2 linked regions of the Homo sapiens genome follow. The protein of the gene in region 1 purifies or fractionates together with the protein of each later gene. This does not show direct contact. Each region holds a gene or a part of one and is shown in the gene's direction. Other genes may lie near its edges.

Evidence for each region.
Region 2: the proteins of HPCAL4 (region 1) and POTEI purify together in Homo sapiens (affinity purification with mass spectrometry; one large-scale study listed by BioGRID and IntAct). This does not show direct contact.

The regions. Positions count from the first base shown.
Region 1 is NC_000001.11:39,677,161-39,682,379, reverse strand, and holds the end of HPCAL4 (hippocalcin-like protein 4), read left to right. Parts: 3' UTR 1-3,732; downstream 3,733-5,219. UniProt on the Homo sapiens protein: May be involved in the calcium-dependent regulation of rhodopsin phosphorylation.
Region 2 is NC_000002.12:130,488,828-130,492,584, reverse strand, and holds part of POTEI (POTE ankyrin domain family member I), read left to right. Parts: intron 1-1,844; coding exon 1,845-1,915; intron 1,916-3,305; coding exon 3,306-3,350; intron 3,351-3,757.

The DNA.
Region 1 (5,219 bases):
CTTTGAGGGACCACCTCACCCTGCAAAAGAGACAGGTCCTCCAGTACCCTGTCTTCTAGCCCCACCTCCCACTTGGCCAGAACCAATGTCCATTGGGCATAGGGGAGTTGGCTTTTGCCCCAGGAGGTGAGGTTAAGGAGTTGGGGGCCTGGGGTTCTGGTTAGGAATTCTCTTGATCCTGGGATTATGCTTTATAGGATGTGGTCCCACAGGCCTGTCACAGGGCCAAATTGGGTCTGTCCATTCCTGAGGCTCCAGATCCCATAAAGGGGGTCTCTTCCCCATCCCTTCTACTCTACCTGGCCCTTCCAGCCCCAGCCTTTGGAGCGTTCATTCAGTCCTTTCTTCAGCTAATGATTACTGAGCACCTGTTTGGTGCTAAGGATATGGTCATTTACAAGACACATCTTGTGCCCTCTGGAAGCTCATAGGGTTGTGAGGCAAACTTCCAGCCGTCAGGGTCTCAGCTAAGCAGAAGGTGCTGGAAGGCTGGTTAGTCTGGGAGGAGCTATTTCATCTTCCAGCTCAGCTCCACACAAAGCTGCAGAAGGACGAAATGAAAAGCATTTGGAAGTTTAGGAGCCACGTGAGTGAAAGTTTTAAGAAAAATGAAATTTATGTCATACTTATTTTTTTAGTACCCTTTAAAGGAGCTACAGTCATTTTATTATTTCAGGAGGTTAAAATATACTCTATATTACTTGGTTTCTTATAAAATGATTAAATGAATAGAGAAAATATTAATTTTCAAGGGGAAAAAACCTGAGAAGAAAGGGAGAAAAGACCATGAAATTTACCAGATAACACTTTTTAAGACTAAGTCCTGAGCTGCCACTCTCAGCAGTTTTTGCTGCTTCAGCTCTTCCTTTTTATTACCTTTTTCAATTCAACAAGCAACTTTCTGCTACATACTTACTCCGGTTGGGTGCTGACTTCAGGGACAGGAAAAAGCAAGGTTTGCAAAGAGTGAAACTAGTGTATATTCCGTATCTTGGTAGTTCGTTTCTGGATTGGGTTTAGTTTCAGAACTGGACTTGTTCCTTCACTGCCACAGAATCAGAAAGAGCTAGAAGAAAAGGCTCACCTGGCCACTGTTTAGGCACCCAGACATAATTTATGGACGAAATGCCTAAAAATGTGCCAGGCATGCTCTGTTTGAGAGGCTTTTTCTAACCCCAAATCTTAGATCTGCCAGGTAGTTCAACATCTTCCAAGTGTGCTGGTTCTGCTTTCCAATGCCTGCTTCCCAATTTTGGATCCATGAGCTATACAGCTGCATGCTTTGACTGCCGGAAAAATTAATCTTGCTTCTTCATCAGGTCTTTCTCCTGTACTTGTGATCAGAAATTACCTTTGACGTGCAGTGACAGTTGATTTCCTCTTGAACTGCCGGTGAAAACAGTCTAGTACACAGGTGCTGTCAGCCCAGGGTGGGAGCAGGAAATGATTGCTGAGCCCGGGGCAGGGGAATTGCATCTGCAGGAAAGAGATGCAGCATGCTCCTCACTCCTGAGTGCCCACCTGTCCTGCTTCTCTGCAGGTGAAAACTCTGGGGGATGCTGATCAATAGAGCTTGGTCCCAAGCTCTACTGGGCCCTTGGAGGTAGCAAGGCCACTGGGTTGCTATCCTCTTGCTGGGGATAGCAACCACTGGTTTGCAACCACTGGGTTGCTATCCTTTTGCTATCCTCTTGCTCATGACCAGCCATATGGTGAGGCTGGGGAGTTCACATCCTCAGGCAGGAACTAGCAGTTGTTTATCCAGCAATGCCTCAAGGATGTTGCATTGCTCCCAGGAACTGGCTATTAGGTATGTCTTGTGCGGTCAGTCAGCATCACAGACACATAGATGCTCACCAGCCTGGCTTAGCTGGGACCTAAATCTTCTGGTGAAAAGCTTTTCACTAAGTGAGGTTCCTTCCCTGCAAATGCTGAATCTAGCCTAATTCGCAACCACACAGAATTTCATGGCTTTCAAAGGCTTGCCATGTGCCCCATCTCATTCTATACTCACATCCCATGGAGGTGAGGATTTTCACTTCTTTTCTCTAGACTTGGAAGCTGAGATTCAGAGAGGAAGCATCCCTTGTGCAAGATCACATAGTCAGGAGGTGACACAGGGCTAAGACTTGAACCAAGGCTCTAAGAGGATTTCTTCTTTTCAGAGTCTCTTCCCTGTCCATTTCTGTGACTAAGCTGTGCAGAGGTTGACAGCAGGGCAAGTTACATTGATATTCATCCTTTATAGGCTTCCTGCTAAAAAGCTTCTGAGATTGTGGTCTTCCAAAAAAAATAGGAGCTTGGTTGAAGTCCCCACATTTTCAAGCACTCAGTGTTCTGCCTCTGGCAGCTGTGCTAACAGCTCAGTGCTGTCCTGGGAGTCCTCTGACTCAGAACCCTCGAAGCATCCTGCATTGTCTTTACCCACCATCATCTTCACTAAGAGAAACATGCCTACCCATGAAGGCGTGTTTGATTACTCCAGGCTTCTGGACACACATACCCATGGGTGATTTTTGCTCCTCAGGCCCAATATTCTCAGACAGCCCAGCAGTGTGAACACACAATGCCAGGCCAGGAACTGGGACCACCATCTTGCTGATGGAAGGAACAACAGGTGGCCCAGGACATGCTCCTGCATACTCCTGGGTGTCCCAGGGACTGTGTGCTCAGGAGCACTGTGGTAGAGCACTGGCCCTGCCTTGAGAAGAGACACAGGTCTCCCGTCCCTGCACCAGCTGAGAGAGACTTGCCGCAAAGCACAAGGCTGGCAGAGATTTATGTATGACTTGCACAGACACAAAAATATACAGACAATCAAAACATTGATATATTCAAACTCTCCTTTAAATTCCAATCTTATTGCAACAACTCTGTGAATTGCAAGGTCCCAGAATCTGCCTTCTCACATACTCTACCCTCATTCATCCTTTTGGGCTAATTGATGAGCATCTTATTTCTTATCTCTAAAAATTATCAGCAAAGGCTACTTCAGATGGCCACTTTAGTCCTTTCAGCTGTAGTCAGGATTATTTAACTTACCTGTATATCAAAAGTGAAGAAAAAGTTAGTTCATAAGTAAAGGCACTAAATCCTTTCCTGACAATGGCAGAGTCTCTAGAGGTAGAAATTTGCCTTGCTGCAGAGAGAGAAGGAATGGCGTGGGATGGGGGAAAGAAAAGAAAGAGAAGAAGCTGGGGTCTCCAGGCAGGGTAGTAAGCTGACACTAAATATTTTTTACACAAAAATGTATTGAAGCAACAAATATTTCCTGAAGATCCACCCTGGGTGAGGCTTTGAGCTGACTTTAGAGATCACTGTGGGGTCAAGAATGTCTTACATGTTTTATTCATCATTCTTGAAAAAAGAAATAATTCAAACCTTGGAATTAAAAAGTCAGAAAAATATGGGATTTTCTTTCTGGAATTTTCGAGGTTTTCTTTTTACCTTTGCCAGAGTGTGGGGGCAGGACTGGGCCTGCCAGGGTGTATAGCCCTTCCTGCTTGGTGGAGGCCAGTCAGGCCCAGGGCCTTCTAAGCAGCAGTAGAAAGGAGGCTTGGGGAAGTGGGGGGTCTGGGTAGCAGGGGAAGGAGGCCAGTTCCAGTGTAGCCCCCTATCCCCTCCAGATGTGCTGCTTCTGGCTGTGCACTCAGTGACTGCCCTCACTGCTCAACCCTGTGCTGTGTGGTGTGTTTCTTTCCCCACTGACAGTGAATAAAAGGTGCAACTGTGCTGAGGGCTCCTGCTCTTCCCTACACTGGGACAGGATTGGGGTGGGGAGAAAGGGACAGAAGAGGCCTGGGGAGGCTCACTCAGTGAAGGGCCAAGGTCCTTGTTCTAGCAAGGACTCTGGGAACATGGCATGAGACTCACTTGAGCTAGTTCAAAGAAATGGGGGAGCAGATTATAAGGGACTCTGAAGATGGAAAATCAAGAATGACTGAACCTCAGGCCAAGCGCAGAGGCTCACACCTGTAATCCCAGTACTTTGGGAGGCCAAGGGGCAGATCACAAGGTCGAGATCGAGACCATCCTGGCCAACATACTAATAATACAAAAATTAGCTGGGCATGGTGGTGCACGCCTATAGTCCCAGCTATTCGGGAGGCTGAGGCAGGAAAATTGCTTGAACCCAGGAGGCTGAGGTTGCAGTGAGCAGCGGAGGTTGCAGTGAGCCGAGATCGCACCACTGCACTCCAGCCTGGTGACAGAGCAAGACTCCATCTCAAAAAAAATAAAAAAATAAAAATAAAAATAAAATAAAAACTGGCTGAACCTCAAGAGAACTGGAACTGGCAACTGGGCCTCTTCCTTACCATCTCTGGGTCTTGCAGGCTCTTGTTCCCTGGGCAGTATTTGCATCCATGCTCTTTTCCTGGGCTTCTCTTCAGACTTCTTTGGTTTTGTTGCACACAGTGGCTGAATCTCCAACTCGGTATCAAGACTCACCAGTGACTGACAACTCCCCTCTGTGCCTCTTAGTTTCAATTCACAAGCAAAAGGATCTGATTGGTTTGGCTTAGCTTTTGGCGGGATCCCTTAGGTCAGGTGTCCTCCCTTGGCCCAACCATCTGTAGCCTGACTGGACACTGATATGTGGGACCTGTGAGCAATTCCCTCAGAAGGAAGCTAATGGCAGCAGACGTTGGGACTTAGTTTCCCCCTCTGCCCAGTGAAAGGCCTCTTAAGAGCCCAAATGAGAGGACAGTGGCCAGCGGAAAGAAAGGCCAAGAGCCAGGGTTACAATTCGTCCATATGGCGCCCTTTGTATGACTTAGGAAAAGGCACCCCTCTGAGTGGAAGCAGCCCCATAAGTACGCAGCTGGGCAGTGGATAGCGCCTTTGGGCTAATTAGGAAAATATCTCCCTTCCTCCAGGTGAATACAGCCCTGTCATATTAGGGTGCACAGCTTCACAAGAGGAGCACAGGCTGCATTTCAGCCTGCCTCTCCTGCTGGTCACGGGTCATTGCATAGTGCGTAACCTGTTCCACCTTGACCTGAAATATGGTCAAGGGTTGGGGTGGGAGTTGGTGGTGAAGTGTTCCTCTCAGAATGTCCCCTGACAGTCCAAGAAGCACTGTTCCCTGCAGAGAGTTGGGGGCAGTGGTGGCTGGAGCTGCCTGCCTTCTCCTGAAATGCTCAATTGCTTCTACAAGGGTTGCGTCAAGGACACTTGGAGGTGGCCAGCTCCCTTGGCAGGAAGTAATTAGGACAGAG
Region 2 (3,757 bases), on another chromosome or scaffold:
CTAAATGCAGATAGGATCAGGGACCTCTCTTGAACATTAATGTCCAGGCATCTTAAAATTACACATAAGGCTTTCATAATCTGACTTCTGCCCCACTCTCCATCTTTAGGCCTTTTCCCTGTGTGCCCTTTCTCTGGCATTACTGAGCTGCTGGCAATGCCCTACTCACTCATCCTTCTATTGTAGGCAAATATTTTCACTCTTTCAGGCCTCGCTCCCGCTCTTGCTGCTGTGTGGCATGCCGTCACCCTTTCCTGCCCTCTACCCCTTTTAATCTGGCTAGTCTCAATATTTAAGTCTCTGCTTGGGCATGTTTTCTAGAAAAGCCATCCCTGACATGCTTTATTTTAATTGTTTTTAAACCCTAATGCCTAGCATGTATTTAGCAGGACTCAATAAGAAATTTCTGAGTAAAATGTGAGTAAGATGATGTGCAAGACTGTCCTCTGCAGTCTTGGAGCAGACGGGACAGACATGTGGAGGAATAATGTAGAGTTCAGGTGGTAAAGATGCAGTAGAAAAATCAGTGAAGTACTAAGGCAGCCTCAAGGAAGGAGGTACCTGTTTATCTGGGGAAAGACATGCAGAATCAAGGAAGACGTTCTCATAGCATTGTTTTAAAAGATAAAAATAAGGATAAGTGTGGTGGCTCACACCTCTAATCCCAGCATTTTGGGAGGCTGGAGCAGGCAGATCACAAGGTCAAAAGATCAGGACCATCATGGCCAATGGTGAAACCCCGTCTCTACTAAAAACACGAAAATTAGCAGGGCATGATGGTGCATGCCTGTAATCCCAGCTTCTCCGGAGACTGAGACAGGAGAATCGCTTGAACCAGGGAGTGTCAGAGGTTGCAGTGAGCTGAGATTGCGCCACTGCACTCCAGCCTGGTGACAGAGCAAGACCCTGGCTCAAAAAAAAAAAAAGAAAGAAAAATGAAAATAAATATGTCTGAATCGTGGAGGGAAACATTTTAGATATTGGGAAGAGATTGTACACTAATAAAGGTGTCAGTAGTAATTTTTGAAATCATTTGTAAGGTACTATTGTTGCAGAAAACAGGAGGCAGGAGAGACCAAGTGGGTGAAACAGGAGGATTTCATTTAGGTTCGCACCAGCTCAGCGGATTTGCATCCGAAAGCTGAGCCCTGAACAAAGACAGGGCTTGGCTTATGTAGGCAAGCTTACAGAAGCAGAACAAAGGCAGTTAATCATATAGTGACAGTTTTGCAACCTCAGCGTAGCTTATGACCTTGCAGCTGCATTGAAGGACAACAGGAACTTGCAAATAATATGCATTTGTAAAAACAGCTCTGAGTGAATGCTGAGGGGAAGGGGAGACAGTAAAGGATTTTGTTTTCTTAACCTTGCTGTGGGATGTCTGGAGCCCATACCTGTGGGCTCTGGCTTCTCAGGCAGGGTCACCATGACCTTTCCTGGGCCCTGCTTGTTACTATCCTTAGAGTCAGACTAGCTAAGTGCGGGAAAACTTGTTTCTCTTTAAAACTAAATTTCCTTTTCTTTACATTTACTGCTTCACTATTAGGAAGTGGAGAACAACATACTGTGTTACCTTATATGTTTCTACTGTATTTTAAAGTTGTGTTTCTGGTGGTTTTGTTCATTTATGTTGGGTGGATGAATTTGTGAGTGAATGACATCAGGTGTCTCCCCAAGTGGTTTGTTGAAGTTTGGGAGAATTATTTCCTAAATAACTATTTCATGAAAAACTAAACACTCAATTTATGAAATAAAATGTTGTCTTAAATCTATTTTTATAAAGGCAATAGTTTTTAACTGTTCTAAGTGGTTCATTTTAACTGAATATATGGATTTCTCAACAGAACAAGACTTAAAGCTGACATCAGAGGAAGAGTCACAAAGGTTCAAAGGCAGTGAAAATAGCCAGCCAGAGGCATGGGAAATTTTAAATTTAAATTTTTGATTTAATGTTGTTTTCTTTGCTTTAATAATATTAGATAGTCCAAATGAAATTACCTTTCAGACTAGGTTTTGAGAATCAATAGATTTTTTAAAGAATTTTTTAATAGATTGTTAAAATTTATTTTAATAAATTCAGTAATCTCATTAACAGAAGAATGGATTCTAATTTAACATTTGATATTTAACTTAAAAAACATAACCACTATAAAATTTAAAATACTCTTATTTTATAATATTTTTATTTAAAATATTCTCATCTGCCTTTTTGATTAGCTTATAGCTAATCTTTCCTTTTGGAATAGAGGCAAAAACAAATTTCAGAACTTTGTTCTTTTATTTTTACAACACCCGAACATGATGAAGAAGGTACATCAATTATTGGATTATGTTATTAAGCAATAGAATTATGAACAATGTAACTCTGATGGTCCCTGAGCTGGATTCATGGTTAAGGAGTAATCATGGCCAGTGATTGAAAATCTGCAGTTTTATATTGTCAGTCACTGATACCAAGGTTAAAAATATATTCTGCCTTATGGTCTCTCATTGACCTCAGCGTTTCTGTTCAGGGAGGGAACCAGGTCATAAAAGCAACACAGCTGCCTATTACAAGAATCATATCTTGCAGAATGGAACCTTTGGTGTTAGTGCACAAACACAATAACATTCTAATTTATTTCAGTTGCAGAAAATTAGTACATATTATTAAAAAAATCTTTATCCACTGTAATTAGTACACATTAGAATATATTAGAACTGGACTTAAGCAGATAATCTGGATACATAACACTATCATATGACAGTATATAATCTCAATTAAAATTTGAGAAATTGCATCTCTTTCTGTTTGGTGTTGATTTCGGCTCCTAATAATTTAAATGGTGCCTACAATCCAGTTAGGAATCTTTTAGAAAAGCACTTCAGTGCACTGTAGGGGCTCACTAGTTAGGGTTTCATGAGGTAAACTCTTTTCAAGTGAGGAAGATTTTGGAACACTACAAATCATCTGCTGATTCATTTTTGGTAGATTTAACACATAACAAGTTTAGTCCAAACAAATGGTGACCAAGTTAAGTTTGCTGGTTCACGTTTTTTTTCTTCGTTGGGCTAAGGTGAATTATTTTTCACATGTTAGTCAGAAGCCAGTAATGTGGCAGTAGCTAAACATAGATTAAAAAGTTAATTCTTAATTTTAATTATTATTTATTTAACAGTTAAATTTTAATTTTAATTATTTTCTAATTTTTCATCGTCCATACTTCATTAGTTAAGAATAAAATTTTTTTAAAACATGCGCTCCAAAAGAGGAGACATCACAGAAACACAACAAGCAAATTAACCTTCTGTTTTTGCCTCTGCAGAAAATGTCTCAAGAACCAGAAATAAATAAGGATGGTGATAGAGAGGTATACCTTCATATTCAAATGTTTCTGTTGAATTAGATTTTTACATTATGTTGTTTAACAAAATGTAGTAAGTGTAGGCATACATGATCCTATCATGTAAGTAGCATAAATCATGAGTGAAAAAGTTAATATTTAACTCAGAAAGAATTCTGTACTTTGAGTTTTCAAGAGATACAAAGCCTAGAGATATTCTTTGATTATTATGGAACAATCCTGAATGGTGCCATAAAATGCTAGGTAATGCCACTTTAGGAGCTTTGGACCAATCATTTTATCTTTCTTGGTTTTAGTCTGATTATCAATAGATAATGTGGCTAAAGAAGATAGCTTCTTATTCTGTGTATCTTCCAGCTAGAAAATTGTATGGCTATTCAATGTGAAATTTGGGGAGCATCTCATTTTCTGGA